7 linked regions of the Homo sapiens genome follow. The protein of the gene in region 7 purifies or fractionates together with the protein of the main gene of each other region. This does not show direct contact. Each region holds a gene or a part of one and is shown on either strand. Other genes may lie near its edges. The genes, in order: SAFB, DDX46, MAP9, HABP4, ESF1, DCAF13 and PEA15.

Region 1 (4,634 bases), on a different chromosome or scaffold from region 7:
AATTTCCTGAGGTACAATCAGCCCAGTAGCTCTCACAAACCAAGTACTGGCCCAGGAGTTGACATCCTAGTTACAGAAGTACATCTAAGTTCCAAGACCCTGGTTTCTTTTTTCTTTTTTTTTTTTTGAGACGGAGTCTCGCTCTGTCGCCCAGGCTGGAGTGCAGTGGCGCAATCTCGGCTCACTGCAAGCTCCACCTCCCGGGTTCACGCCATTCTCCTGCCTCAGCCTCCCGAGTAGCTGGGACTACAGGCGCCCGCCACCACGCCTGCCTAATTTTTTGTATTTTTAGTAGAGATGGGGTTTCACCGTGTTAGCCAGGATGGTCTCGATCTCCCGACCTCATGATCCGCCTGCCTCGGCCTCCCAAAGTGCTGGGATTACAGGCGTGAGCCACCGCGCCTGGCTGCAGACCCTGGTTTCTAATAGCTCTCCTCAAAAGGGCCCAGGGCACCTGGAAGAAATGGCTGATTCCGGGGAAAGGGCAGGAAAAGCATAAGATGAGACTCACGTACCCTGCCATTCCAGAAGGTAAAAAAGTATCCCAAGAATGGCATGAACATGTGGAAATGACAGGGGAGCCTGTCTGACAGGGTTCCCAATGGAACGTTTTGCACATTGTAGTAAATAAGCATAAAGGCTTTCAACCTATGGAATAAAATAATCTAAGTTCACACAGATAAATGAGGGCAAAGGGCAAGCTATTCCTTATGTCAGTAAACCAAGTAATAAACAAACAATAACAAAATTAAAAAATCACCATTTGGCAACTACCAGAATAAATGAATAGACAGGAACTGGTGGTTGCTAAAACTAATGGACGATGAGCAGGATATTTACAAAGTCTCAGAGTATCTTCCCCACAAATGTAACTGTGAAAAGGAAGACAGTAACTTTCCAGTGGAGAAACCTGGCCAATAGCATTTGAAGTCAGCTAACATGGCCAATAATGGCTCAAACTGACAGCATGTGCCTCTGGATAGTATACTCTGATGACAATATAGGCTGGGCGTGGTGGCTCATGTCTGTAATCCCAACTCTTTGGGAGGCCAAGGTGGGAGGATCGCTTGAGCACAGCAATTCAGGGTTGCAGTGACCTACAATTGCACCATTGCACTCTGGCCTGGGTAACAGGGCAAGACCCGGTTTCAAACCAAAACAAAACAAAAAACAGGAATACAACATGTCTGGTGTATTTCTGACAAGCGTATAACTTGATCCTTATTATGGGGCGGGGAGAACCCAAAACAATTCAAATAGAAAAATAAACTACAAAATAAGTGTAAGTGTTCAAGATTAAAGAAAACTAAGGAAACATGACAACCTGATGCAATGCATGACTCTGGACATTTTTTGTCTGAGTTATAGAGAATATTATTGGAACAAACTACTGAATCTAAATGAGGACTAAGACGAGGTGGCAGTATTGTATCAATGTTAATTTCCTGATCTGGACATCTACAGTTAGGTAATATCCTTACTTTACTGCAGTACGTAGGGCAAAGGGGCATATGCGCCTTGCAACTTACCATGCGGTCTAGTAAAAACATACATACAAGGAGAGAAAAGGACAAGGCAAATGTAGTCAGATGGCAATATTTGGGGACTCTGGGTAAAGGGTATATGGGAATTCCTTGCATTATTCTTGCAACTTAAGTATGAAATTGCCAAAATGAACAAAAACTGAACAAAACAAGCCAGCAGCAAAGGATTGGGTAATACTTAACCAAGCAAACAGGCCAACTTTGCATCTCCAGTTACAAAACATTCTCAAACACCATAAAACATCCTATTAATTTGTACTTTGTGATGACACTACAAATAAATTTAGTTTCCTGGTAATTATTTTATTTTTTCGAGACAGAGTCTTGCCCTGTTACCAGGTTGGAGAGCAATCACAGCCCAATCATGGTTCACTGCAACCTCAAATTCCTGGACTCACGTGATCCTCCCACCTCAGTCTCCTGAGTAGCTGGGACTACAGATGCACGCCATCACATCTGACTAATTTTTCTAATTTTTTGGAGAGATGGGGTCTCACTATGTCACCCAGGCTGCTCTCCAACTCCTGGGCTCAAGTCATCCTTCCGCGTCGGTGTCCCAAACTGTTGGGCTTACAGACGAGAGCCATCTCGCACAGCCCCTGATAATTATTTTGAGAGTCTGCTAAGATGGTGAGAGTCACGTCATGTGGAATGTGACTTTTGCTGTATAAGCAGTTTTTAAAAAAAATGTTAAAGTGACAATTCTGTTTTGGCCAAGTGCTGTTTAAAAGGGATGTCATTTTCTCCAAGTCCAAGCAATAGGAGGAGAACTGAGATTACATGAGATATGCTTTCTGGAATTTTAAAGCATTTTGAATTCACACATTACAGCAGTCCCTCTATTTTCAGTTAAAATCTTGATAAAACCCACTGATAAAGTAGTTGAAAATAATTCAAGAAAACTTACCGACCTGCCCTATCAGATATCAAAATGTACTGTAAATTTCTAGAATAAAACTGATTACAAGAAGCAAAACAAAACAACAAATGAGACACAAAAGAGCTAGTATTGCATGGCTCCATTTTACATGAAGTTCTAGAATGGGTAAAACTAATATCTGGTGAAGTAATCACAACAGCGACTTTTATTTTTGCAGGGGCTGGGAGGGGAGACGCACTGGGAGGGGCAGAAGTGATCTTTCTGATGACAAATGTTTCTTTTCTTTTTTTTTGAGACACAGTCTTGCACTGTTGCCCAGGCTGGAGTGCAGCAGCATGATCTCAGCTCACTGCAACCTCCGCCTCCCAGGCTCAAGTGATTCTCCTGCCTCAGTCTCCCGAGTAGCTGGGATTACAGGCATCCGCCACCATGCCCAGCTAATTTTTGTATTTTTAGTAGACGGGGTTTCACCATGTTGGCCAGGCTGGTCTCGAACTCCTGACCTCAGGTGATCTGCCCGCCTCAGCCTCCCAAAGTGCTGGGATTACAGGCATGAGCCACCACGCCCAGCCTAAATGTTTCATGTTTTCATCCCTACCTACCTCACACCACATGCAAAATACATTCTAAATTAATTAAACCTCCAAATGTAAAATGTAAAAATAAAACCATAAATATTATTCTTTCTATATATAACAGAGTTATACATATAGTTTTTTTTTTTTTTGAGACGAAGCTTCACTCGTCGCCCAGGCTGGAGTGCAGTGGCGTGATCTCGGCTCACTGCAACCTCTGCTTCCCGGGTTCAAGCGATTTTCCTGCCTCAGCCTCTCAAGTAGCTAGGATTACAGGCGCTTGCCACCACACCCAGATAATTTTTGTATTTTTAGTAGAGACAGGGTTTCACCATGTTGGCCAGGCTGGTGTTGAACTCCTGACCTCAGGTGATCCACCTGCATCGTGGGATTACGGACGTGTGCCACCGCACCTGGCCTTACAGTCATATTTTTAATAATTTAAAAGCAAAGAAGTCCTTTTAAAGCGTAACATAAAATCTAGAAGCCTAGTGATCAAAATACCACAAGTCGAATCAGATTAAATTGAATGACAGATTAAAACAATAGAAACATTTTATATGAGTCTTTATAACTCAATAAGACAAACAACCCAGCACAGAAATCGGCAAAGGGCATGAAAAGGCCATTCAGACGACACAAATGTCCAATTATCAGAAGAGTATAATCTGTGAAGAAATGCAAACGAAAATCTCACCTGCAGAAAAATGCAGATAAATACAATGAAATACTTTTCTTCTATATAACAGGCAACAAGGTAACAGGCAAACAAGGTAAGTTTGATGTTGAGTTTAGTGAAATAGGCACCGTCACCCATTGTTGGTAGGGTACAACCTGGGACAGCTTTTTGTTTTTGTTTTTGTTTTTGAGACAGCCTCACTCTGTCGCCAAGGCTGGAGTGCAGTGGCACTATCTTGGCTCAATGCAACCTCAGTCTCCCAGGTTCAAGCTATCTTCTTGCCTTAGCCACCTGAGTAGCTTGGATTACAGGCGCCCACCACCACACCTGGCAAATTTCTGTATTTTTAGTAGACGTGGGGTTTTGCCATGTTGGCCAGGCTGATCTTTTGATCCGCCCACCTCAGCCTCCCAAAGTGCTAGGATTACAGGCGTGAGCCACTGAACTTGGCCGGGACAGCTATTTGTAAACTAGCTATGTGAAAATAAAGGGCCATATCCTTGGAGTCTAGAATTCTCCTTTCACTAAGTTATCAAAAATTATATTACTTTGACCACACAAAGGTATTTATCTCTGGTTCGTGCAAACACTGAATGTTGGAAGTACCGAGTGATAATTGGAAATAAAAATCTCCAAACGTCTAGTAATAAAAAGACTGATGGGCTAAATTGTGTATTTATTCATACAGAAGATTATTAGCCTGTTAAAAAACAGTGAGATTTTGTATAGCAAGATCACGGGTTTTTTTAATGAAAAAAATATGCATACAGGTGTGTGCACATACCTATATATTTACTTTTTTCCCCCTCTCACTCTGTGCCCAAGCTGGAGTGTAGAAGCACACTCATGGCTCACCGCAGCCTTGACCTCTTGGGCTTAAGCAATCCTCCTACCTTGGCCTCCCTAGTAGCTGGGACTACAGGTGTGTGCCACCATGCCCAGCTCATTGACTTTTA
Region 2 (4,634 bases), on a different chromosome or scaffold from region 7:
TTACACACTGTCACTTCCACTTTATTCTTTATGGGGTTTTTTTTGTCTTGTTTTGTTTTGTTTTGGAAACAGAGTCTGACTCTGTTGCCCAAACTGGAGTGTAGTGGTGCGAACTCAACTCACTGCTGCCTCAGCGATCTTCCCACCTCAGCCTCTTGAGTAGCTGGTACTATGGGTGCACCACCATGCCCTGTTAATATATATTTTAAAATGTTTTTTTTTTTAGAGTCGAGGTCTCACTGTGTTGCCTAGGTTGGTCTGAAATTCCTGGGCTCAAGTGATCCTCCTGCCTCAGCCTCCCAAAGTGATGGTATTACAAACATGAGCCACCATGCCCAGCCCACTTTCTTCTATTAGAAGGAAGTCATTAAGTCCAGCCCACACTCAAGAAAAAAGACTATTAAATAATTTGTAGCCATGTTTTAAAAACATCTGTCACTTTTTGACATTATGGTAGTTTCCTCTTTTCTGTGGTTTTAGTTGCCATAGGTTAACCACAGTCTGAAACTATTACAGTATTTTGAGACCACATTCATATAACTTTTATTACAGTATATTGCTATAATTGTCCTATTTTATTGTTGTTAATCTCTTAACTGTACCTAATTTATAAATTAAACTTTATCATAGGTATGTATGTATAGGAAAAAACAGTGTATGTCGGTGCGGTACTATCTCTGTTTTTAGGCATTCACTGGGGTTCTTGGAATGTATTCCATGTGTAAAGGGAAAACTGCAGTATTTTTAACTGTTTTTTAAAATCTTGTGATAAAATACGGTGATTGTTTCTTCGGGTGTTAAAGTAATATATAATTTTATGAAAAATGTAAACAGTACTTAACACGAATAAAATCAAAAGTAAGGTTAGCTCTACCAGCTAGCATTGTATACTTCCCCCTTTCCTGATTTTATGAATTTGTTCAGATTGTAATACCATGAATGCTATTTAATTTAAAACGGTTTTACTCAGGTAAATGTTGAGTTTTAAAACTAGTTGATAACTGACCCCCTGTTGGTGTTTTCTTGGGGTTTTGTTTTGTTTTGTTTTTATGAGACAGGATCTCACTCCATCAACCAGGCTGGAGTAAAGTGGCGTGATCTTGGCTCACTGTAGCCTCGACCTCCTGGGCTCAGGTGATTCCCCACCTCAGCCTTCTGAATATCTGGGACTACAGGCATGTGCCACCATGCCTGGGTAACTTTTATATTTTTTGTAGAGACAAGGTTTCGCCATGTTGCCCAGGCTGGTCTTGAACTCCTGGGCTCAAGTAATCCTCCTGCCTTGAACTCTCAAAATGCTGGGATTATAGGCAGGAGCCACTGTGCGTGGCCATAACTAAAACCCTTTAATAGGTAATAAATGTTTTAAGAAGAATCTAAGGCTGGGTGTGGTGGCTCATGGCCTGTAATCCCAACACTTTGGAAGGCCATGGTGGGAGGATAGCTTGAGCCCAGGAGTTCAAGACCCTCCTAGACAACACAGTGAGACCCCATCTCTATAAAAAGGTTTTTAAAAATTAGCTGGACGTGCTAGTGCACGCTGTGGTCCTAGCTACTTGGGAGGCCGAGATATGAGGAACCCTTGAGCCTGGGAGTTAAAGGCGACCCTGTCTCAAAAAAATACAAAAGCTAAACGGACTGTTTTTATTGTAGTAAAAGAGCTTTGTAAATTAACCAATTAATTTTTAAGCCCTAAATAAGCTTTTCTGTGCATTTGAGATCTAGAAGATACAGCTTTATTAATCTGATCTAAATTTCTGAAGGGGGCTTGTATTTCTGTAATCAGTGATATCAGTAGTCACTGTTGGGCAAAGGGCATTTTTTAAAAGAAATGCACATAGCAGGCTGGCGGTGGTGGCTCATGCCTGTAATCCCAGTGCTTTGGGAGGCCAAGGTGGGCGGATCACGAGGTCAGGAGATGAGACCATCCTGCCTAACACGGTGAAACCCCATCTCAACTAAAAATACAAAAAATTAGCCAGGTGTGGTGGCGGGCACCTGTAGTCCCAGCTACTCAGGAGGCTGAGGCAGAAGAATGGCGTGAACCTGGGAGGCGGATCTTGCAGTGAGCTGAGATGGCGCCATTGCACTCCAGCCTGGGAGACAGAGCGAGACTCTGTCTCAAAAAAAAAAAAAAAAAAAAAAAAAAGAAATGCACCTAGCAGTAGGGCTCATGTGACTCCTGTCAAAGCAAAGCATTCATCATTGCGCTTGCCTTGATGGGGAAACAACCTGCATTTGTTTCCTTTCTTGATTCAAAGGAATAAGGGAATAAGCCTTTTCTGGTTCAGTTACCCAGTTTTTAAGGCAAATCCAATTGGATTTTATGGGTTGGGAAGAGTTTTGAGAGCTTTACCTTAGGAACATGTTATATCACTCCCCCTGAGAATTATTGACTATATTTTTAGTAGGCCACTGACCTTGAGTTATAGTCCTTCTTCCAGCCTGTTTCATTGCAGTATAATTTGGTCTCAAGGCCTGAGCCCTGGGGTAAGTCAGCTGCATCCTATTGGCTATTCTGTCTTGAAAGCACATGTTTCCTCATTTATTGAACAGGGATGAAGTTTCTGGTCCTCTCAGGAGTCTGATGACGTGGTTCATGCAATGTTGTTTCTCTGTTTTCTATTTTTCTCCCTACCATAGACAACTGATTTTTTAAATGAAATGTGACTTTTAACAAATAGGTGGTATATTTTCCCATGGATCTGTGTAGTAGGATTTGTGTAAATATAACTATCTGATTCCAGCCTTTTGGTGGAAACATTCCTTATTTATTTCTGTAGAATAACTTAATTTGGTATTTCTAATTCAGTTTTTTACTAGTCCTTTTTTTCCTTTTGATCTAGATTGATGAGCAAATTGAAAGCATGTTTAATTCAAAGAAGAGAGTAAAGGATATGGCTGCTCCTGGAACATCAAGTGTTCCTGCTCCAACTGCAGGAAATGCTGAGAAATTAGAAATTGCTAAGAGATTGGCTCTTAGAATCAATGCCCAGAAGAATTTGGGCATCGAGTCTCAGGTATTAAGTAATTTGTTCCAAGTCTCAGTCAATACTTTTAAGAAGTTCTTTGATTTTACTTTTCAGGAATTATGTTGAACACAAGTAAACAAGTTGTCCTAGACATTGAGTTTGTGAGAATTTAACATTCTCAATACAGAATTTTTTGATAATTGCATTTGGATGATTTCTCAGTGCTATTGACTGAGGACTTTGGGCCTATTCTGGAATTTCTAACTGTTAGCCACTGGTAGTTTTATAGGGTAGTATTCTGATGAGTCTTAACAAAATCTTAAAGATGTATTAATAATTCTCTTTTTCTTTCTTTATCTGCTTTTATTGGGCACACAACTCCCTGGATATACAAACACCCAGTTACATGACTCAAATCAATATGGTCTTAAACAGTGGAGAAATGTGATTTTTAAATATTTCACGTTATCTTTTTCTTGGAAGCTTACTTGTTATTTTGAAGCTTTTGAGGCAGTCATTAACTATAACGTTTGTAATGTTGGGTTGGGTCATAGAGATGAAGGAGCTCAGTGATGGTAGTAGTACAAACATTCAAATTCGGAGGAGACTCCTAGGAATTAGAGTATGCAAATGATTTTCGAAATATTTACTGTGTCTGACATCAAGAGTTAGCTAATTATCAACTACATCTCTATGATCTAGTAGAATATTTAATAGAGTTGAATGTTCTCCAGTTTTCTTATCCACTAGGAGGTACATTAAACTACATTATAAATATATATTGCTAAATCACACATATCAATGAGACTATGCATTAGAAAGGTTTATTTATTAAACTTGCATACAAAGTTAGTAGCTTTTCAGAGAATAATTTGTGGTGTGGTCCCTACTCTTGTCTCTGCCCTCATTTGAGATTTAACTAAGTCTTCTTTAACTACAGGATGTGATGCAGCAGGCCACCAATGCAATTCTTAGGGGTGGCACCATTCTGGCTCCCACTGTTTCTGCAAAAACCATTGCAGAACAACTTGCTGAAAAGATCAATGCCAAGCTCAATTATGTGCCGTTAGAGAAACAAGAAGAAGAGAGACAGGATGGTGGACAGAATGAATCTTTTAAGAGATATGAAGAAGAATTAGAGATCAATGACTTCCCACAGGCAAGTAACAGGTTTAAACCTTTTTTTATTGTGAAGTAGCAACTCTTCTTTGGAGGAAAAATCTCATCTTTAAAACCCATGAACATTTTAATAGCTCCTTCACTCTTTACCTAAATGGAGGATATAACAATAGAAATTTGATTTTTATGAGTATGTTCAAGGTACATTAGGATCTAAATGAACTTATGATGCAGGTATGTATTAATAATGATCTTTGTTTTCTTTGCTTGTTTGTTGTTTTTTTTTTTTTTTGAGACAGACTTTTGCTCTTATCGCCTAGGCTGGGGTACAATGGTGCGATCTCGACTCACCTCAACCTCCGCCTCCCGGGTTCAAGCGATTCTCCTCCCTCAGCCTCGCGAGTAGCTGGGATTACAGGCATGCGCCACCATGCCCAGCTTATTTTTGTATTTTTAGTATTTTTAGTAGAGACAGGGCTTCACCATGTTGTTCAGTCTGGTCTCGAACTCCCGACCTCAGGTCATCTGCCCGCCTCGGCCTCC
Region 3 (4,634 bases), on a different chromosome or scaffold from region 7:
TCTCAACTTCAAAATTGGTCTAATTAACATCTTCCTCCCATTTACCTAAAAATGGGCTTATGGATTCTGCCAGAAGATTCCACAACCATACCAAATTGGTATTATTATAAGTAGCTGACAATTTTAGCTACATCCTAAACTCCAGCCAAATGTTCAACCCCAAATCCAAGGGCTCTAGATTCCTCCCTCTATTATCCCCTAAATCCAGAGTATCAATATATCCTATCAATTCTAATTGCCAAATATCTCATTTATTCCACTTTCTACATCCCTGCTGTCGGGTCCTTATCCACTCTTTCCTAGATCACTGCTTCCATGATATTTACAAAATCCAAATCAGATCACATCACTCCTTTCTACAAAATTATTCAATGGCTCCCCATGATCCAATCCTACAGAATAAAAGCTTAACTGCCTTTAAACAACATAAAACGGATTTTATGGTTTTGTCCTTCACTGCCTTATCTACAGCCATTTTGTCATCTGTGTTTCTGAAATGCTGGGCTAACAGTTGTCATGCACACATACCACAATCCCTCCAATCCCTCCTGCTACCATACCTTTACCTAAGCTGATCCCCCTGCCTAGAATATCCACTTCCTGCTTCTCCTCCTGACAAATGCTTGCATGTCTTTTGAGCCTCAGTTTAAGCAGAATATTATATAATGCCTGAAAGAAGGTGTTGAGTCAATTTTTTTTATTATTGTGGTAAGAACAAACATGAGATCTACCTTCTTAATACATTCAGTGCAAAAGACAGTACTGTTAACTATAGGCACAATGTACAGCAGATCTCTAGAACTTACGCATCCCGCATGACTGATACTTTATACCTGCTGAGCATGTTTATAAACAAACGCTAAATAATAAAATGAATAATCAGAACATTTATAGAGTGCTAAATTTATGCCAGTACTATTCTAAGCACTTCAAATATGTGAACTCATTTAATTGCCTCAAACTCCTAGAGGCAGGCAACTATTATCCCGTTTTTAAAGATGAATAAAATGAGAACAAAGAGGTCTCATGCCCAAAGTCACAAACTCTAGCAGGCTGCAGATCTCAGATTAAAGGAGAAGCATCCTGACTCCAAAGTTCATGATTTCAGTCATGTTAGTATTAAAATAAAAACATATCCTGTGAAAAATACTTTCACTTTATAGAGCAACTGTCACTTCAGTAGTGACTATAAAGTCTGGTTATTATACTTTTTACAAAAGACAAGCAAGGACAGAGAAAACCTTCAAGCTCTAATAGTTTCATAAAGCATTACTTGCTACTCAGCAATATCTCACCACATTAAAAACATTGAGTTCCAAACCTGTACAGAAAAAAAAAAAGTCAAAGAATTTAGAGGATAAACTCATGAACCATATTCCCTCTTTCAAAGATAAATCATTCATATATTAATTTATTCATTTAAATACTTATTATATATGCCAGATATTATCTTAGGAACACTAGCCTCAATTTTTACTTTTCAACCTGAAGAACCTGAGAATGACAACTTTAATATATTTTCTACAAAAATTCCACTTCCAGAAGTACTGTCAAGTTCCCAAAAAGAAAAAAAAATGCCTATACTTTAAGAAAAGCGCTTTTTTTGGTAATCAATGTATACAATTACCTATTTAGGTAATTATTTTTATATTACACGTACTGAATATAACATTGCATATATAAGTAGAGCATTTAGGATCCTGATGCCACCTTGTGGTTAAAATACAGTATTTTCTTATTCATTGTAACCCACCACAGGTTTTTTTTTTTTTTAAGGTATGAAATAGGTGGATTATTGCTTTCCTGATTATCTACCATAAACTTCTAATTATATACATCCACCTGTCTCAGACAAATTTTTAGTTGCTATATATGCTCGCATTTTCTTAATAACGAAGTTCAATTATGTTCCTCTTCTCTCCAGCATTGATTTCACTCACTATACTTAGAAGGTACATTTTAACAAGTTAATTGTTTCATTATGCATCTGTTTGCATTTTTGTAGTTTTTTATAGTTTATGAGATGCACTTCAATAAACTCTCACAATTTTGCAGGAATAGAAAGAGGGTTATTTTTAGCTTCCTCATCATGAGGATACTGAAGCTTAACTTATTTGCTGAAGTCATATATAATATACAGAGGCCTTTCCCCCAGTGTCCTGGATATTATTCTAGTGTTCTTTGCTCTGCTTACATCCTTTGCTCATTTCAAAGTTAATGAGATTGTGGGGTCAGGAAGAAAGGAGCAGTTCCCCAATACATGCCTGAAATAAAGTTTTGTCTGACGTTACCACTGGTATCTAATATGCAAAGTATGAAATATTTACCAGCACTGTATTTACTGATGATATGCAAGGAGATTTTTATGAAGGTTAACATCAACTAATAATTCCTTTATAAAATACAAAGAATGAAAAACAAAAAATCCTTAACCTTGCATATACAAGTTCATGAATGGTGGCCCAGGGTATGTGACAGGACTTGGTCTCCGTTTCATTCTATCTTTGTTCCTTTATGCTTAAAATTCAGTAAAATTGTGGGCAGAACTAACTGTAATCCCAGATCACACCAGGAACTTTCCTTTGGAAAACTGAATCTTAGTAGATTTTCATAGGCAATACAGAGATCAAATGGAGATTCTCTTAAGGAGTGCCTGGATGCTTCAACAAACAACAGCAGCAATAACATAACTCATCCTTCAAATATACAAATGTCAAGAAAATTTTCTGGCACAATGTTGGTATGGCAAAGACTGTTAGAAGGATTAGTCTCAATATTGCTGTAACTCTAATCTTTGGAGTGTGAGAGGGATTAGACAGCATTCCATTCCAGTTCCACACCTACAAACAAAACTGAAGCTCACAGGTCTAGGTGTCTGGAGATCCACAGCTATGGATGCTATGGATGACTAAAGGTGCTTTGGCTTTGTGCTTTGGCTTTCTATCAGGCAACAGCCTAGATGCAAGACAAAATACAACAGGTCTGTAAAATTGAAGTTAGACAAAATACAACAGGTCTGTAAAATTGAAGTTAGACAAAATACAACAGGTCTGTAAAATGGAAGTTAAGTCTGTCTTTTTTTCTTAAATATATACTAGCTACCATATAAAAATTTTGGGACTGATTATCTTAAAATAAACTTCCAAGAAATGCAATTACAGTAATCCTAACAAATTACCTGAAGATGTGCTTTTAATTGAAAGAATTCTGGGTTTAGGTTTCATTTTTATTTTGTCTTTTTCAAATTCCTCATCCTTATTTTGAGATTCAGAGAAAGATTTTACAACAATGTCTTCACACCCATCAGGTGCCATTTCCTCTTCATTTTTGATGGCACACACTGGCTCATCTTTGGTTATGTTACCGTTTGATTTATTGGTTTTCAAAAACAATAGTTTTGAAGGATTCTTTTCTTCATCATCTGATATATGAAAGTCATTCATTTTTTTATTAACTGAATTTTCATCTGCTGAAGTGTCAGAAAAATCACCTAAAGAAACTGAAAAATGGAAAAGAAAAATGTTTTCAACAGTATTTTTAAAAATTGTCAAGGTTACGTTAACTTAATCAAAGTTTACCTTAAAAGCTACAAACAAAATTCTAACAATGAATAGGCACAAATGTATTTTATAAATAGACTTGCAGCTCTAAAAACACAGCTAACTCAGGCACGTCTCATTAACATTTATGAAATAAAAATTCCAATTTCATTAATTTATTCAAAATGTATTTATTGTGTTGTCTGTAGGGTACCAAACAACCAAACACTGTTTGCTCTGGAAAAAGCCATCCAAAGGTCCCTAACAATCAGTCATGTAGCATTTAAATTAGATTATGGACTGTAAAACTTTTATTTGCAAATTACTTCTTCATGTAAAATCAAGAACATTTGTAAATGGAAGAATTTAATTAGTAATTACTAATTATATTTTTTCCATAAAAATTTTGGAACTACAATTCCATCCACACCAGAATATTAGATTTACTAAGAATCATAAGAAATGCTAAGTTAACTATACAGCAGTGATTTAACTGTGGTTATTACTGGTTTTACAGAAATCAATTACAATTATTCACCAAATTTTAAAGAATAAAACACCAGGCCGGGTGCGGTGGCTCACACCTATAATCCCAGCACTTTGGGAGGCTGAGGCGGGCGGATCACAAGGTCAGGAGTTCGAGACCAGCCTGGCCGATGTGGTGAAACCCCATCTCTACTAAAAATACAAAAATTAGCCGGGCATGGTGGCGGGCACCTGTAGTCCCAGCTACTCAGGAGGCTGAAGGAGGAGAATCACTTGAACCTGGGAGGTGGAGGTTGCAGTGAGCCGAGATTGCACCACTGCACTCCAGCTTGAGCAACTGAGCGAGACTCCATCTCAAAAACAAAAACAAACAAACAAAAACACCAAGTTTAGAATTCTGTATGCTTATACCTGAAACTAAAATGTTAATATGTTTACATAGCTAAGAGAAACCAAATTATAATAGTACTGATATATGAAACACGAAGAGTCTGTGGTTTTTAAATTTACCCCTTATCACAGCCAAAAAAAATCTGATTTATAGCAAGCTTTATAAAAGCACTTCTAATGTGCACCGAAGTTTAGTTCTGTGGGACTAGTTACTAACTA
Region 4 (4,634 bases), on a different chromosome or scaffold from region 7:
TGTTTATGTTAAACAGAAACAAGTAGTGAATCACATTTCAAGGAAAATAAAGTTAAACAAGCTAAGGAAGACTAGAATAGTGAACAGTTATATGTCAAGGGAGCCATTTTTCCAAACTCTTTCTGCTTCTTGACTGCTAATTCCATTCCATTTAGGATTCTGGCTACAAGTTTTAACCAAAAAATGTGGCTTTGTAAAACTATACTATAGAGCCTATTAAAAACAAAACAAAACAAAAGTCCAGCAGAGAGTAACTTAGCCTGGGTGGGCTGAGCAGGTGATGACTCATGCAGAACTGTTCACCTGGAAGTTACACATTCAAGACATTGAGATAGTCTATCTGCAACCATGTTGGAGGGAGAAACTTACAGAAAGCCTTAATTTTGCACCTTTTTTGGTGATTACTTCAAATCTGCTGTGTAGTAAGCACAGTCTCCTTGTTTCTGCAAAGCTTCTTGTAGCAGAGCTGCTTATTTTTGGAAGCATTTGGGTATTTATTTTCCCCTCACTTTAGGGATTCTGTGGAAATGAGGAAATTATAGTTCACTTGCACAAACCCATGTTTCCCCCCTTTTTTAGTAGCAAGACTGTGTAGTCTTTAAAAAGGATAAAATAGATCTTTATATGTGACATGAAAAAATAGCTATTAAGTGAAATAATACATATATGGAAGAGTAAGGTGGGATATGGAATTATGGAGGGGTTTTTTAATTTAAATAAGGTCAGAATTACAGAAAAGTTTTAAGAATTATACGAAGAATTTCCATCTGCCCTTCGAGACCCCCCACATACTAACTGTTTACCACATTTGCTTTATCATTCATCCCCCACCACACCACACAGCCTTTCTTTGTTATTTGAGAATAAGGTGTAGGAATGTCCCCTTACTCCTAAATACTTTAAATGCATTTCCTAAAAACATGATACAATTTTCAAAGTCATTAAAATGAATACAATACTGTTACCTAATTCTCTAAATTACGGAGTCTACAGACTTTACTCAGATTTCACCAATTGTCCCAGTGATGTCTTTTCACAAAAGAGAAAACATTTCTGCTTCAGGATCCACTCCAGGCAAATGCATTGTATTTAGTCATCTTTAATTAGGAACAGCTCCTTAGCCTTCCTTTGTCCTTATGAATTTGACATGTTGTAGAGTATGAGCCAGTTATTTTATAACATGTCCCAGATTTTGAGTTTTTCTGATGTTTCCTCGTGGAATGAGGTTACGCACTTTTGGCAGGAATGCCACAGAAGTAATGTGTTCTCAGCGCATCGCAGTACAGATATGTAGGGGATTTTCACTTTCAGGGAAATCTGAATCTTGATATCAGAAAACATTTTCTTAGTTTCTTAAAAAATACCCTCAATAAATAATACTCTTAACTAATAATAAAAACACTCTTAATAAATAAAACATATAAAGTTTTATTTGTGACAAACTCACAAGCAAAAGGAAGGAAAATAACATTTGAGCCAAGCATCCTGCTTTATAGACTTGTGATTCACTGTCTTACAACAGTCCTAGCAAGTAGACATGATGCCTGTTTCACAAGTGGGAAGCCTGAAGCCCATGAAAGTATGAATGAGGAGTTCAGTGTGGATACCAAGTTTCAGTTTGAAAACATAAAAAGTTCTGGAGAAGAATGGTGATGATAGTTGCACAACAGTGTGAATGTACTTAATGCCACAGAACTGAACACTGAAAAATGATTAAAATGGTAAATGTTATGGTATGTATATTTTACCACAATTTGCTTAAAGCTTGTTAATAATGGGGGGAGGGTAAACATCTGAGGGATTTTTTTTTTCAGAACAGGAATTGATTTTAAATGACCAGTAAACTACAGAAAGGAAGAGCCAAAATTCATCTAGACAGAGGCAGACTAATCTCCTAATAGTCTGTTCTAAGAGTTCAGTTAAGTTTATTTGGAGCCTAAGGAAAAATTCCTACTGCATTAAAAACAGTAGTTTACTCCCAGAATATGTGCACCACATGATATAGCAGATCTCGGGGGCGGAGACATGCCCGTTAATCCCAGCGCCGTTTATGACATTGCTTCCGTGGGAAAACACGTTCTCTGCCTGGGTAGAATAGAAATCCATGGCAGCTGGCTGTGACAAGACTACTACACACATTGCTGAAACTCTGGGTCTGTTTTCTCATTGAAAAATGGAGAGGGCTGAATTTAGATAATCTTTCGAGATTATAAAGATTCTATAATTCTGTCCAATAAACATGTATAGGTATTAAAGAAACTCAAGGTGACACCCTTTTTCACTATCAGATGAGCAAAGATCAAATTTTATCATATTCAAGCTTGGGGAAAGTGCTATAAGAAATGCTCTTGGCGGCACAGTGGCTCATGCCTGTAATCCCAGCACTTTGGGGAGGCTGAGGCAGGCAGATCACCTGAGGTCAGGAGTTCAAGACCAGCCTGGCCAACATAGTGAATCCCCGCCTTATTAAAAATTCAAAAATTAGTGGGGTGCGCCTGTAATCCCAGCTACTCGGGAGGCTGAGGCAGGAGAATCGCTTGAACCCAGGAGGAAGAGGTTGCAGTGAGCCGAGATCATGCCACTGCAATCTATCCTGTGTGACATAGTGAGATTCTGTCTCAAAAAAAAAAAAAAAGAATTTGTAGGTTGGGCACAGTGGCTCTCACCTGAAATCCCAACACTTTGGGAGGCAGAGGCAGGCAGATCACCTGAGCTCAGGAATTCGATTCCAGCCTGGCCAACGTGGTGAAACCACATCTCTACTAAAAATACAAAATTAGCCGGATGTGGTGGCACACGCCTGTGATCCCAGCTAGTCTGGAGGCTGAGGCAGGATAATCGCTTGAACCTGGGAAGTGGAGGTTGCAGTGAGCCAAGATTGTGCCACGTCACTCCAGCCTGTGTGACAGATGAGACTCTGTCTCTAAAAAAAAAAAAAATTGCCAGGCGTGGTGGTGCACAGCTGTGATCTCAACCACTGAGGAGGCTGAGGCATGAGAATCACTTGATCTGGGAGTCAGAGGCTGCAGTGAGCTGAGATTGCACCACTTCACTCCAGCCTGGGAGACAGAACGAGACTCTGTCTCAAAAAAAAAAAAAAGAGAGAGAGTTTACTGTTGGCTGGGCACAGTGGCTTATACCCGTAGTCCTAGCACTTTGGGAGGCCTAGGTAGGCGGATCTCTTGAGCCCAGTAATTTGAGACCAACCTGGGCGACATGGTGAAACCCGCATCTCTACAAAGGGTAGTTAGCCGAGTGTGGTGGCACATGCCTGTAGTCTCAGCTGCTTGGGGGACTGACATGGGAAGATTGTTTGAGCCTGGGAGATCAAGGCTGCAGTGAGCAGTGATTGGGCCATTGCACTCCAGCTTGGGCAACAGAGTGAGATACTGTCTGAAAAAAAAAATTACTGTTACTTTTCTTTTGTTTTAGAACTGTACTTTAGATTTCTTTTTTTGCTCTGTTTCCCAGGCTGGAGTGCAGTGGCAGGATCTCGGCTCACTGCACTCCTGGGCTCAAGTAATCCTCCCACTTCAGCCTCCTGAGTAGCTGAGATTACCAGGCATGCACCACTATGCCTGGCTAATTTTTATATTTTTTAGTAGAGATGGGGTTTTGCCATGTTGCCCAAGCTAGTCTCGAACTCCTGGGCCCAAGCGATCCAACTGCGTTGGCCTCCCAAAGTTCTGGGATTGCAGGAGTGAGCCACCACTCCTAGCCTGCTTTAGTTTTTTTATTTTTATTTTTAAGACAAGGTCTCGCTTTGTTGCCCGGGCTGGAGTGCAGTGGTGCCATCTCGGCTCACTGCAACCTCTGCCTCCTGGGTTCAAGCGATTCTCCTGCTGCAGTCCCCCAAGTAGCTGAGATTACAGGCGTCCGCCACAACGGCCGGCTAATTTTTGTATTTTTAGTAGAGATGGGGTCTCACCATATTGGCCAGGCTGGTCTCAAACTCCTCACCTCAAGTGATCTGCCCGTCTCGGCTTCCCAAAGTGCTGGGATTACAGGCGTGAGCCACCGAGCCCAGCCTGCTTTAGATATTTGCTATAGTTTAGGATCAGGTTTTGCTTTAGATATTTGCTATAGTTTAGAATCAGGTTTTGGTTACAGGAGGTGGGAGACAGAAAAGCCAACTTGGAGAATTTATTTAAGTTGTGTTTCTTATAAGAGACTGGCATGACGTTAATGATCAGTACTTCTGTATTTCTTTATTTTTTGAGTAAGGAAGATTGCGAGTTTTGTATACTTTTACCCACTATTGTATAGCGGTTTCTTAATGTAACACTTTTAGCCATAAAAGTAGATTGTAACATACCTCTACTGCTGGTGTTTGAGCTACTAATGCCACTAGGTTTCTTGATGCCAGGACCTCCATTAAATAAGTAATTTCTTGTGATTTTAAATGTTTTTAAAAGCCTTTCCAAATTAGAAAACATTTATTAAACTATTGTTACAATGGTGAAAAAGAGCTTAGAGCTTAGTGAAGGAGAGACAAGTCCTCAGAAAGAGTGCTGGTGCCCAGCGACGGTGCAGGGAGGAGTGGGTGGGCAATCAGGTCCTGGGTCCAGGCTCTGATGTGGCAGAGGAAGAAGAGGGAGGAGTGGCTTGGGCTCTCGCTCGTATTGTGAGTTGGG
Region 5 (3,682 bases), on a different chromosome or scaffold from region 7:
CCAACACTTTTTTGGAGGCCGAGGCATGAGGATCACTTGAGTCCAGGAGTTGGAGACCAGCCTGGGCAACATAGTGGGACCCTCATCTCTATGAAAAATAAAAAAAATTAGCTGGCTGGGCGTGGTGGCTCATGCCTGTAATCTCAGCACTTTGGGAGGCTGATGTGGGCAGATCACGAGGTCAGGAGGTCAAGACCATCCTGGCTAACACGGTGAAACCCCATCTCTACTAAAAATACAAAAAATTAGCCAGGCGTGGTGGCGGGCACCTGTAGTCACAGCTACTCAGGAGGCTGAGGCAGGAGAATGGCGTGAACCCAGGAGGCGGAGCTTGCAGTGAGCCGAGATCTCGCCACTGCACTCCAGCCCAGGTGACAGAGCAAGACTCTGTCTAAAAAAAAAAAAAAAAAAAAAAAAAAAAAAAATCCAGGTATAGTGGCGCACACCTGTAGTCCCAGCTACTCAGGAGGCTGAGGTGGGAGGATCGCTTGAGTCCAGGAGGTCAAGCCTGCAGTGAGCCATGATTGTGGCACTGCACTCCAGCCTGGGCAACAGAACAAGACCCTGTCTCAAAAAAAAAAAAAAAAGAAAAAAAAAGAAAATGTCTTCAGAAAGACTGATGGTGGAGCCAAAGGCTACTGTCTTTTAATCCAGCACAGCCAGTTCATCCTAGGGTGGATGAAATCATTGTTTCTTTGGTTGAGCACCAGGTGAAATAGTTGACTTGTATTTTGGTAGCCATATTGTACCAAAAATGTGTAGTTTTTAATGTTAGAATCACATGTAGTGATCCTCAGACCAGCAAAGGTATGCTTGAATAGCAGGTTCATGTCACAGTGGGTCACACTCACTGTGTGCAGTGGCCAGCGCAGTAAGCCATGTTTTTTCAGTTGCTGTGTTTTTTGTTTCCATTACTCCTTCCTCTTTTTGTTGAGTACATATTCCTAATGGCTGCAGAGTCCCCTAAGCATGAGTTTGAGCCGTCTACCAAAAATCTACAAACAGCTGTTAGAAACTGCTTAATGACTTCCAACCATTAATGTGGAAGAACTGACCCTGAGTAAGATGGGGGAAATTTGGGAAATTTTAAATTTGTTCAAACAATGGAGGGTAGCATACAGATGGCTTCTAAGTAGCATATAGAAGGATTTGGGGGCTACTCTGTAGCTTCTGTTGTTTGAGTCAGTTTCACATATGCTCCCATTCCAGTTAGGTTTTTATTGAGTTACTTTCCTTATGAAAAGCAAAGAATGATTTGTAGTCATTCTGCCTTCATATATTAATATATGCATAAAAGTATTTTTTACAGGATTTTTTTCCTTGTTCTGGGTATCAAATCCCTTGGCCTCGTGATAACTAAGTAAAGCTACAATCTATCTCCAGGTGGACTTGTATTTCGTGTGTTTCCCTTTCTGCTGGTTACCCATCTGCCTGGCAGCCCTCAAAGGCTGGCTGCAGTTAAGGGTATATTCTTAAACATGGAACCACAAGTTTTTATAGAAAGAAGATAAATCTGGGGCTTGTGTCTGACCAGACCTTGATCTCAGATGGATTATTTGCCATAGTGGTCTTTAAATCTTTTGATCCATGGATCACCTTCAATAGTTCCTTATTTTGGCACCAAGATTAAAATTTCTTAACATGTACTCAGAGTTCAGGGCCTCCAGCAGATGTTCTGATTGGCTTATTTATGCTGGTAAGAAATTGATTTTGTGCTGTAAGCATGGGAAAGCCCTGCCTCACAAACCACTGCTACAGTCATTTTGTCTAAGTGGTCGTTGTAGTTACCGGCCATAATATGTATATGTATGGCCCACTATAATTCCCTTTGAAATACATTGTCCTTGCATGATAAGAACAGGGTGCCCCACAAGTTGTGGTCCAAAGGTAGGCCATAAAGAGCTATGGAAAAACAGTTTCCTAATGAATCAGTACAAACACTCAGGTTTGTATTTTATATAATCAACTCACCAACTTTCGAAATTTGGCCCCATTTCTGGCCTTTTGCTTTAGTAATTTTGTTTAATTAATTTATTAATTTTTTTTTTTTTTGGATTTGCAGGTAAATGTTAACGATGCACGGTTTCAGGCAATGTACACTTCCCACTTGTTCAATTTGGACCCCTCAGATCCCAATTTCAAGAAAACAAAAGCTATGGAAAAAATCCTTGAGGAGAAGGCCCGGCAAAGAGAACGGAAAGAACAAGAACTTACTCAGGCAATAAAGAAAAAAGAGAGTGAGATTGAAAAGGAATCACAAAGGAAGTCCATTGATCCTGCTTTGTCAATGTTGATTAAATCTATAAAAACCAAAACAGAGCAGTTTCAAGCAAGAAAAAAGCAAAAAGTCAAATAACTGGATGTTACTTATTTTTGAACTGAATACATCTTTTCCTAAAATGTACAAAAATAATAGGAGGGAATATTTATTGGGAACAAAGCTATCTTTCAAGAACATGAATAAAATCTTTTTCTGGACATAGTAAAATTTTTCTCCATAAATAATTGTACTTAATTGTGGATGACTGACAAATTTTTATTGTATATTCCTACAGATCAGTCATAATTAAATTACCTGCATTATAGGGTTTATAAAATTTTTATATTTTACAATGTTCAGTTCTAACTAGTGGAAAGTTACTCTAGCTTTTTAAAAGGCTGTTTACAATTCTGTGTAAAAATAGAGCAGTATCTACTCAAGTTTGTGTAAATGTTAGGGATAATTTGAAAAATATATATATTTAATACATTAATTTCTCTGGAAGCAGGAGGCATGTTTAAATAACTATTAAAATAATTTATTTTTCTAGCCATAAAGGATGGAAGTCAAGAACTTTTTGTTGTTTAGTCATGTTAAGTATAGTTTATGAAATTAACTTGTAAATAAAAGTGTAAAATATTTTCATTATTTTGTATAGCACTGATTTATTCCATTTTATGCATCTCAAAGTACTCTCTGGAAAAATATCTGAAAACCGATTTTAACTTTTTAAGAGGACAACTCCATTTAAAGGCAGTTCTAGAGTTGCATTGCTCGTAAATTGCATTTGAAATATTCATGAGCTCTCCAGTGGTTTTTCTGTTTGGTAGCAACAGAAAAGTCTTCTGTCTGTCCTTCACATTTTTGGAATACTTTAGAAGGATGGATATGCTGCTGTAGAGTTTAAGGATACCTTAATTCTTCTTAAAATTAAAACACATCTTTAAGGCCTTAACACTCTTGGATCTCATCTGGTCTAAATATTATAGACAACTGACAGTCAAATTAGATATGCTGTATAAGTAAATGTAAATAAAACCAGACTTGTAACTTGGAGCAAATTATAAATATGGTAACTTCTGAAAGACAACAGGAATTTGACCAGGTTTGTGGTTAAACTTGACATTTGGGGTATTAAAAATCAAACCTACTGACCAGGCAAGGTGGCTCTCACCTGTAATCCCAGCACTTTGGGAGGCTGAGGCAGGAGAATTGCTTGAGGCCAGGAGTTTTGAGACCAACCTGGGCAATATAGTAAGACCATAGGCTGGGTGTGGTAGCCTACGCCTGTAATCCCCCCACTTTGGGAGACTGAGGCAGGCACATCACTTGAGGTCAGGAGTTCAAGACCAGGCTGGCCAACACAGTGAGACCCCCCATCTCTACCGAAACTACAAAAAATTAGCCGGGCGTGATGGTGCA
Region 6 (4,634 bases), on a different chromosome or scaffold from region 7:
AAAAGAAAAACAAGAACAGGGGCAAAGTTAGGTCATGCATATTGTGATAAACATGGCATTTCAACTTGGAGAAAAAATGGATTATAAAAAATGGTATTATAATATCTGGTTAGTCATTCAAAAAAATTGAGCCAATTTGATGCCTTATGTGAAAATAAAATTCCAGGTAATTTTAAATGTAAAAAATAAAATGAAAAACATGAAAATACTGGAGAGAAGGCATTGTTATAATATTGAAATAGATAAAGTCCTTTTCTGCATGAACTGCAGAAACTACTAAGTCAGTGGTTTTCAAACTGTGAACTTTGGGCCTCTGGAGGACCCTGAGAACTTTTCAGGGTCCACACAGTCAAAACTATTTTCATAATGTTAGTAAAGACATAGTTTGTCTTTTCACTGTGCTGACAGCTGCACAAATAGTAAAAAAGCAACAGTGAGCAAAACTGTTGGCACGTTAGCCCAAATCAAGGCAAAGCAACAAACTATGGTAATTTAGACATGGGTATTTGGCAGACATGTTTAAGCTATCAGGTGAAACAGACTACAAAACAGAACATATAATGTAGTTTGAGGTTGAAAACAAAATCATAAATGTGGTACTGTATAACTGCATACATACAAAACTGCTAGTTTTAACTTAAAATCTTACATTTATATATTAGATGCAATCTATATCCACTTTTTGATAAAATCATTAACAAAGATATCTTTATCTAAGGGAAGAGTATGAATGTAGCTCTTTTCTTACAGCAAATTCAAAAAGGAAAACGCTTCTTGCAAAACAGTTTACAGTGCCCATGAGATGAAAACAGATAAGTGATCAGGAAAGGTTTTGGTACTAAGATTACACAGCGATGTCTTTTGTTGAGGATGTCGATGAACAGAATCCTTAACTACATCCTTGTTATAGACAAAAAGTATTTAATAGGGCTACATCTTATTAACAACTATGAATCTGAGCCACTGGCACTATACTAAAACTCAATTCTAGAAACCTGATTCTACTGGGAGACTAAGATGTAATCTAGGTACCAGGTCTTGACTGATCTGGCTTGACCCAAAGAGACATTTTAGCACTTACAGAATACAGGATAAACTGTGTCCCTGAGCACCCCGTTCCTGAAGACGCTATCCCTCCATCAAGTTTCTGATAGTGTCTGCAAGCTCAAGACTGAATTTGCTTGTAAATGACCAAGCTGTTCTGCCGTCTACTGAGTACAAACCTCAGCGGACCACCAATTCTGGGAAGGGTTTTCTCATTTTATAGAAATGAGTAGCCGAACAAGAATATGTGCCTGGCTAGAACATCTCATCTCCAGGCTGGTTATGCTGAAGAAGGAATTGTTGGTATTACAAACTGGTATATCTTAGTGAAGTTTTAGGTAATAAAAGTTTATGTTTTGCAACACTGTGTACTAAAATTTTTAAAAACATTCTTAAAGTTGTACCAGCAAGTAGTCTTCACATGTGTCTTATCTCTGACAAAGCACACATTACTCAAAAATATCTTTTTGGTTGGGCATGGCGGCTCGCGCCTGTAATCCCAGCACTTTCAGAGGCTGAGGCGGGTGGATCACTAGGTCAGGAGATCGAGACCATCATGGCTAACACGGTGAAACCCTGTCTCTACTAAAAATAAAAATAAATAAAAAAATTAGCCGGGAGTGGTGGTGGGCACCTGTAGTCCCAGCTACTGGGGAGACTGAGGCAAGAGAATGGCGTGAACCCGGGAGGCAGAGCTTGCAGTGAGCAGAGATCATGCCACTGCACTCCAACCTGGGCGACAGAGGGAGACTTCATCTCAAAAAAAAAAAAATCTTTTTGAAAAACCGAGAAACAATAAGGTGGGCATGGTGACTCATGCCTGTAATCCCAACACTTTTTGGGAGGCTGAGACAGGCTTGAGCCCAGGAGTTCAACATCGGCCTGGGCAACGTAGCAAGACTCTGTCTCTTTAAAAAAATAAAGTGGGGGGAAATAAGTGGTGAATATGAAACATTTTCAGTCTTTATTCATTTCTTAAAATGTTTTTTATTTAATTTACAAATAAAAGATATATATTTATGATGTACAACATTGTGTTTTGATACACGTAGACACTGTGGAATGGATAAACCAAGCTAATTAACATATCTGTTACCTCACATACTTATTATTTTGTGGTGAGAACATTTAATTCACTTTCATAGCAATTGTCAAGAGAGCATGTTGTTATTAACTATAATCACAGTGTTGTACAACATCCATCCCATCTATTTGAAATTTTGTCTCTTTTGACCAACATCTCCCCAATCTCCCTCCCTCAAAGCCCCTAGTAATGACCATTTTACTCCATTTCTAAGAGTTTGGCTTTTTTAGATTCCACACAACTGAGATCATGTGGTATCTGTCTTATTTAACTTAGCATCATGTCCTCCAGGTTCATTCATGTATGCTGCAAGTGACAGGATTTCCTTCTTTCTGAAGGCTGAATAGTATTCCTGTGTGCGTGTGTGTGTGTACTTTTTTTTTTAAAATTCATTCATCCATTGCTGGACACTTTAGGTTGATTCCATATCCTGGGTATTGTGAATAATGCTGCAAATGAGCCTTTATTCATTTTAAGCATTAAAAAAAAATACACTAAGTCCTCTGGCTGAGCTATTAATCAATATATCCAAGAGAATAACCAAGTGTAAGAAGCCTTAGGTGCCATCCATTCCCACTTGCCAATCAATTCCTTGCACAACACTGGGCTTGCAGGGTCAGGCAGCTTATCTGCACCCCTCTAGTGAAAAGTAACTGAATGCTTTGCAAGGTAGCCTATTCTGCTTTTTGACAGCAAATAAGTTTTTTTTTTTTACACCAAAACCGAATCTTTTAACACTAACACCTATTTCCAGTGCCTCTCTATGGAGCAACAAATTAGTCTATTTTCTTTTTCACATGACAATCTTTCAAATTGTAGCTATCAGGTTTCCCAGAAGTCATCTTTTCCCTTTATTATTCTCTTGCAATCTAGCTTCTGCACCCAGCCAACCTGGATTGCAACCTACATTTTATAACTCAGCTCAACCTGTTTTTTAAAAAGTCACCAGTAAATAAAGAATAAGGAAGATCTATTTGACTGATTAGCGCATGTGTATACAAAAACTGTTGTATAGGTAGGTCAAAACACTTGAAAAGACATACACCAAACTAATAGTGTTAGAAGTGAAAGACTAGAATTATGCAATCTTTAATTTTCTATTTTTTACATCTCTACATTTCTAAAATGTTTTCCTCAGTCTTCATTTTTCATTATTCTTTGTAGTAGTTCACAAAACTGACTATTCCTTCCTCCTAGGACACTATGCTCATTCACAGATTCTTTGAGCTCTGGCTACTCCTAGAGTTTTCCCACTTCCCAGAGGTGGGCATTCCCCAAGGCTACTTCCTTGACATCTTTGTATTTCTATATTTTCCTCCTCATTTCCTCCCAATGATGCCATACTATGGCTTCAATGATTAGTTCTATATTGATGATGTCAAGTTCAGCTCTGACCTCCCTCCTGAGCTCCAGACCTGCATCTGTAAAGGTATGACAGACATCTTCACTCGAACAGCCCATTAGCAGTCCAGTTTGTCACATCATATCCTTCCCATTGCCACCCTTCAAAACTTGCTGGTACTCCTCAGCAACAGGAACCAACCTCTTCCCAGGCACCTCTCAGTTGTCAAACCTGTCAATCCTCCAAAGTATCAACCACTGATTTCTAGTTTTCAGTCTCCATAATAAGGTAGCCTCTTATTATTGCCTGCCAAACTATTAAAATGGCCTTCAAACTGATCACTAACTGCTGTCAAATTACTTAACTCAAAGCACAGCTCAGATTTTGTCGTTCCCCTTGTTTAAAAAGACTTTCAATGAACTTGAATTGGTATTTGTACACCAATGGTCACGGCAACACTATTCACAATAGCCAAAAGGTGGAAACAAATCAAATGCTCATTGATGAATGAACGGATAAACAAAATGTGACACATACAATGGAATGTTATTTAGCCATAAAAAGAAAGGAAATTCTGACATGTACTACAACATGGATAAACCTTGAAGACAATTATGTTAAGTAAAATAAGCCAGACCCAAAAGCCTTATTCCACATACACAAAATGGTATAATTCTTTAAAATATGCTTCTATTTATATGAGGTACCCAGAATAGTCAAAATCACAGAGGCAAAAAGTAAAATAGTAGTTACCAGGGGTTGGGGACTGAGGGGACAGAGGAGTTATTGTTTAATGACTATAGTTTCAGCTGGGGATGATGAAAAAGTTCTGAAGACAGATGGTGGTGATGGTTGCACAGTGATGTGAATGTACTGGATGCCACCAAACTGTATATTTAAAAACAGAGAGTAAATTTTACGTTCCGGATATCTTGCCACACACAGGCACAAAACTTCGATGATTCCTTATTATCTGACTAACAAAAGTACAAATTACTCATCTTAGCATCAAAAATCCTCCAGAGTAAGCCAAACTCTTTCTAGACTTACCTCTCATTAATTCCACTTTTGTGGTAAATTGAATATTAGTTTAATCATGTTAAGTTATGGGGAAGGCTGAATTATATAAAGAAAACTAGTAATTTTCAAGGTTTAATAAGCTAT
Region 7 (4,634 bases):
GGTGTAGGGGTTGGGAAAAACAGGAAATTCCTCTCAGCTCTGCCTCAGATCTCCTACCTCTCCTTAAGTCTTGTAGGGGGTTCCAAGGATGGCTCTTCTAACCAGAGGCTGGCCTGTCTTTAAAACTTAACTACTTTAGGGTGGTGCCACCACTGCAGACTATTGTGGTACTTTGTGACAGAAGACATGTACACACACACCACACACATACATACACACTCTCTCACTCTGTCTCTCTTACCTTTAGCTGCTTGATCATTAAGCCATCCAACTTCATGCCAGTTCCCTTCTTTATAGAAGAGTGAAGGGAAAGACTTCCTGGGTTTGACTTAAACCTTGTCCACCTCTTGATATTTTAGGATTGAGGAATAAGTCATTAATCTAAGGACTGATTACAGTGGCTGGAGCTTGGGCACTTGTCTTATCACTGGTCACTGAGTCTGAAAGTCCCAGCTGAATTCTTGCCCTTAAGTGCTTTTGCTGCTATTTTTTTGCCCCCAGTTCCACAAGATCCAACCAAGAATTCTGTATCCTGGGACAGTCAGATTCTTCTAAATCAGGCCAGGAAGGAGGGGAAAAGAGTGAGAGAATGGTATTCCCAGATACTTCTTCCTCCTGCCCCTTTTCCCAGCAGCTCTGAGACCAGATGTTGGCTGCTGTACTTACTCCCTGAGGTAGGGAATGTGTGGTGATCGAGTGGTCTGTGTTCCTATTGCTGGTGGGGTGATAGGGTGGGCTAAAAACCATGCACTCTGGAATTTGTTGTATTTTCTCCCAGTAAAGCTTTTCTTCTCCCGACTGCTGCTCTGTGTGGTATGTGGTCCATTTATTCACAATGGATGGTTTTTGTTCCTACTAATGTAGGTACCTAGCCTTCCCCTCTCATTCTGCACATGATACAGTGTTAGAAAGTCCATTTTGGGAGACCCGTATTTCCAGTGCTTGGGCTCCAATTGGAGACTGTTGGAAGTAGGATACACTCCATTTAGCTCAGTGATACTTAGGAGATTGGGTGGGGTGAGGGTATACACTTGGGGTATTTTCCCAGCCCTTATTCTGGGCCATAAATATTGTTCCCCCTCCCTTCCCAGTGATTCAAAGCCTGCAAAATCCTGGTCACTCACAGAAATTTTAAAATCAGTTAGTTGCAATACAATCAATCACCTTTATTCCGGGTTAGAACAAGGCCGTGCACACTGCAGACAGAAGAGCACAAGATAGGGGCAATCTCACAGCAATATAAGGAGTGGGTGGGCAGGTTAGTCTTTTTAGATTATTTTGCCTTACAGAGAAACTACTAGACTCTGCTGAAAAGAACCCTGTCTCTCTTCTCCCATTTCTTCCATAAGAAAGGCTCCTTATTCTCTCTCTCACTCTAATGTAACATATCCCAAATGGAAGGACAGTTCATGCTCATTCCCCCCACCCAATTCTACAAGTATCTCTCTCTTCTTAAGGGAGAAGCCAGACAGGGAAAGGGAGACTTGGGAAGGTCCTTTAAGGCAAAACTGTGGAGTCCTAGAGGTGTGTGTGTTAAGGCAGGTGTCTGCAGCAGTGGCCAGAGGGGCAGGGCACGCTAGGCTGGGCTAGGAGTTAAGAGTACTGTCTAACCAGTCTGGCTTCTTCCTTCTTCCAGCAGCCAGCCCTCCCCTCCCATTAAAGTTTTACTCCCACATCCTAAAAGCTCCTAACTTGAACTTTGTCTAAATAGTCTCTGAGACTGCATGTGAATTTAATGTTTTTTGAAAAAGCCTTCTTTTTTGTTTGGACTATGTAGCAATTTGATTCTGCCACTCCCTTCACTGTGGCATTCCCCTCCCACCCCCGCTCTGGCCTAGACAATAAGTTAATGCTAGACACCACAAAAAAGGGCAGACATGGCAGTGCAGTTTTAATATACATATATGTAGAATATATATGTACACACAGTTAGCACGGTCAGGGTGGGGAGGGGCATCTTGGGGTAGGCAGGAGGCTGGGGTCACTCACTGTACTGTAGTGATGTGGCTAGGAGGTGTTCACAAGCCCAGGGGGCCAGGATATCTAGTAAAGAAGGGTTTCCTAAGTAAGTCCCTTCCGGGATTGAATTGGGGTGGGGATCGGTGCAAAGGAAAACACTGTAGTTAACTTCTTTCTGGCTTGGGATGTTCTTCACCAAGGAGAGAGGGAAGGTTGCCTACAATAACCAAGTTGGGACCCTATAGATGGTGGTGTCAGGATTCGTGTTAAAACCTAAGGGTCTCATTCTTCAACCTCCCTAGGTTTAGAGTGCAACAGTCTGAGTAGGAACAACTGAGTGGAAGAGGGGGCTCCCCTCTCTCTGCCCTCATCCCCATCTCAGGCTCAGTGGTACATGTTCCCAGCACAGTCTCTCCAGAGTACAGGTGGGTGGGGGCATCTAACGCTGGCTGCTCCATGGGGTTTGATCTTAGGGACCAGGAAAGGATCCCTGGCTCATACCTATGCTAGGCCCATGAGAGACAAAAAGGGACCTGCTGGTACTCAGGAAACAGTCCAGCACAGGAGTACAAACATGGAACTCTGGCTTTTCTTTGCCCCTTCCAGGTGGGGGTTGAGTGGTCTCTTTGCCTTCCGTCCCCACTGCTTTTCCCTGGATCCACCTACCTCTCCCATACCTTACCCCTATGTCAGCTCCTCAATGTAGGAAAATGCAGGTCCTTTCTGCTTCCACACTTTAAAGATATGGGGGGAGTGGAGGAAAGGGAAGTAGGAGGAATGTGCTGATTTCTATTTGCATAGAAATAGCCCCCACCTCCTCCTAAAGTGGGGAAACTCAGCCCCCTCCCCTAGCCCCTGACCCCCATCCCCTTAAGAAGAGGAACTAGATGAGCTAGACATATAGACAAACAGCCAGAGCGTGCGCACACGCACACACACGCGCACAGTAAGGGGGTTAGGACCAGGTTAGTAAGTGGGTAGATGGTGGGTTGCCCTTGCCCCCTCTCCTGGAGGATGGGGGAAGGGAGTGGTCTGATGAAGGTCCAACCTTCCTCCTCTTCCTCCCCCTTGCTCAGGCCTTCTTCGGTGGGGGAGCCAATTTGATGATCTCTTCCTCAGAGGGCTGCCGGATAATGTCTGGGGGCAAAAAGGTATGTGTCCAGGGACAGCAGTGTGGGAGATGCCAGGCAGGCCCATTGGGCATCTGCCTCCACTCTCCCAAAACTCAAGTACTCCAAGGATAGTCAACGGGACGAGGCAGAGGTGCAGCTAGTTAAAGGAGTGGCCGCTTACCTTTGTACTTCTTGGCACTGGGGATACGGGTTAGCTTGGTGTCCAGCTCATCCTCCTCAGAGATCTTCAGCACACGGGTTCTGTAGTCAACCACCATAGTGAGTAGGTCAGGACGGCGGGAGATCTCAAAGATGTGCTCAATGTAGGAGAGGTTGTCTGGAGGAAGGCAGGAGATAGGGTCAGAGCTAGGCTGTAGAGGTCAGCTTCCCCTACTCCACCAGACTAGTGACCTGGAACCAAAGCTGAGTTGCTGACATTGGTTATGGGAGGGTACAACACTGGAGGAAGAGGGGCTACTAATCCAGGAGAAGAAAGCTAAGGTACCCAAACAACAATACAGAGGACTGTTCGCAGGAAGGGCAGATAGTTGGTCAGTGAAGTTTCTAGATTGTGGTTAGAATGAGGGGTTTAGCTTAGATACTAGCTCCCATATGTTGTGGGGAGGGGACAAAAGAAAAATCAACTTGACTTCCAGATACCCCACCCCCACCCCCATCCTTTTCCACTTTCCATCCAAGTAAGTATCAGAATTTGCTGACAGCACATGTAGGACCAGCAGGGTGGAATCTCTAGGCAACCCAGGAGAGATTCTGGGCCTGGTGAGAAAGGTTATTCTAAATGAGAGAAGGTATGGACACCACCAGAAGGACGATGTCCATGGCTTGGCCAATTCCAGGAGATTATAGATGCCCTTAGACCTTCTTCCCTGGCTCCTCCCCTCTGACTGTTGCCATACAGTCTAACTGTAACACGTCCTCCTTTATACGTTCTCCCTGCCAGCCACACAGCAGTCAGAATAGTATATCTGAAGGGCCCTGAGTTCACTCACCTCACCTATCCAATACCCAGGCTCTCTACAACACAGTCTTACCTTACCTTCCCAGCCATTTCTAAACACCCTACATCCTAGTCAAGCCAAGCAGGACTGATTGCATTTCCAAACACACTAGATACTCTGTGACAGTGTTCCTCTGCCTGGCATGCCCTCCTTTGGATCTTGCCTTAGAAATCCCACTCACCTTTCAGGGCCATCTTAAACACCAATTCTTCCCTAAAGCCTCCAGCTGTGAGGGATTACTCTAATCCATAGATCCCACTCCCCAAGCAGTAGTCTCTCAAAGTGGATAAGAAAATGATAGAACTTGTAGTTTTAAATTTTACCAGTTTTTAAAAAATGCTTAACAAAGATTAGTATTACTATTTACCAGTTAGATTACACTTCGAGTTCTCCCCTCATTCAGGTATTCTTCCATTTTTATTGTCTAGAATTCTTCCCAATTTTTGCCACTTAAAATTTTACTATTTTTAGATTGTTTTTATGTTCTGTTGTATATGTGATAATAGCACAGGAGTATCTGAATAACATTTTTTACCGATGAGGG

The links.
Region 1: the proteins of PEA15 (region 7) and SAFB purify together in Homo sapiens (affinity purification with mass spectrometry; one large-scale study listed by BioGRID and IntAct). This does not show direct contact.
Region 2: the proteins of PEA15 (region 7) and DDX46 purify together in Homo sapiens (affinity purification with mass spectrometry; one large-scale study listed by BioGRID and IntAct). This does not show direct contact.
Region 3: the proteins of PEA15 (region 7) and MAP9 purify together in Homo sapiens (affinity purification with mass spectrometry; one large-scale study listed by BioGRID and IntAct). This does not show direct contact.
Region 4: the proteins of PEA15 (region 7) and HABP4 purify together in Homo sapiens (affinity purification with mass spectrometry; one large-scale study listed by BioGRID and IntAct). This does not show direct contact.
Region 5: the proteins of PEA15 (region 7) and ESF1 purify together in Homo sapiens (affinity purification with mass spectrometry; one large-scale study listed by BioGRID and IntAct). This does not show direct contact.
Region 6: the proteins of PEA15 (region 7) and DCAF13 purify together in Homo sapiens (affinity purification with mass spectrometry; one large-scale study listed by BioGRID and IntAct). This does not show direct contact.

Annotation. Positions count from the first base shown.
Region 1 is NC_000019.10:5,629,272-5,633,905, reverse strand, and holds part of SAFB (scaffold attachment factor B1), read right to left. Parts: intron 1-4,634. UniProt on the Homo sapiens protein: Binds to scaffold/matrix attachment region (S/MAR) DNA and forms a molecular assembly point to allow the formation of a 'transcriptosomal' complex (consisting of SR proteins and RNA polymerase II) coupling transcription and RNA processing.
Region 2 is NC_000005.10:134,813,584-134,818,217, forward strand, and holds part of DDX46 (probable ATP-dependent RNA helicase DDX46), read left to right. Parts: intron 1-2,846; coding exon 2,847-3,023; intron 3,024-3,912; coding exon 3,913-4,131; intron 4,132-4,634. UniProt on the Homo sapiens protein: Component of the 17S U2 SnRNP complex of the spliceosome, a large ribonucleoprotein complex that removes introns from transcribed pre-mRNAs.
Region 3 is NC_000004.12:155,369,958-155,374,591, forward strand, and holds part of MAP9 (microtubule-associated protein 9), read right to left. Parts: intron 3,500-4,634; coding exon 3,179-3,499; intron 1-3,178. UniProt on the Homo sapiens protein: Involved in organization of the bipolar mitotic spindle. Required for bipolar spindle assembly, mitosis progression and cytokinesis. May act by stabilizing interphase microtubules.
Region 4 is NC_000009.12:96,459,526-96,464,159, forward strand, and holds part of HABP4 (intracellular hyaluronan-binding protein 4), read left to right. Parts: intron 1-4,634. UniProt on the Homo sapiens protein: Ribosome-binding protein that promotes ribosome hibernation, a process during which ribosomes are stabilized in an inactive state and preserved from proteasomal degradation.
Region 5 is NC_000020.11:13,713,548-13,717,229, reverse strand, and holds the end of ESF1 (ESF1 homolog), read left to right. Parts: intron 1-2,062; coding exon 2,063-2,356; 3' UTR 2,357-2,905; downstream 2,906-3,682. UniProt on the Homo sapiens protein: May constitute a novel regulatory system for basal transcription. Negatively regulates ABT1.
Region 6 is NC_000008.11:103,421,206-103,425,839, reverse strand, and holds part of DCAF13 (DDB1- and CUL4-associated factor 13), read right to left. Parts: intron 1-4,634. UniProt on the Homo sapiens protein: Part of the small subunit (SSU) processome, first precursor of the small eukaryotic ribosomal subunit.
Region 7 is NC_000001.11:160,211,884-160,216,517, reverse strand, and holds the end of PEA15 (astrocytic phosphoprotein PEA-15), read right to left. Parts: intron 3,409-4,634; coding exon 3,253-3,408; intron 3,097-3,252; coding exon 3,032-3,096; 3' UTR 1,146-3,031; downstream 1-1,145. UniProt on the Homo sapiens protein: Blocks Ras-mediated inhibition of integrin activation and modulates the ERK MAP kinase cascade. Inhibits RPS6KA3 activities by retaining it in the cytoplasm. Inhibits both TNFRSF6- and TNFRSF1A-mediated CASP8 activity and apoptosis.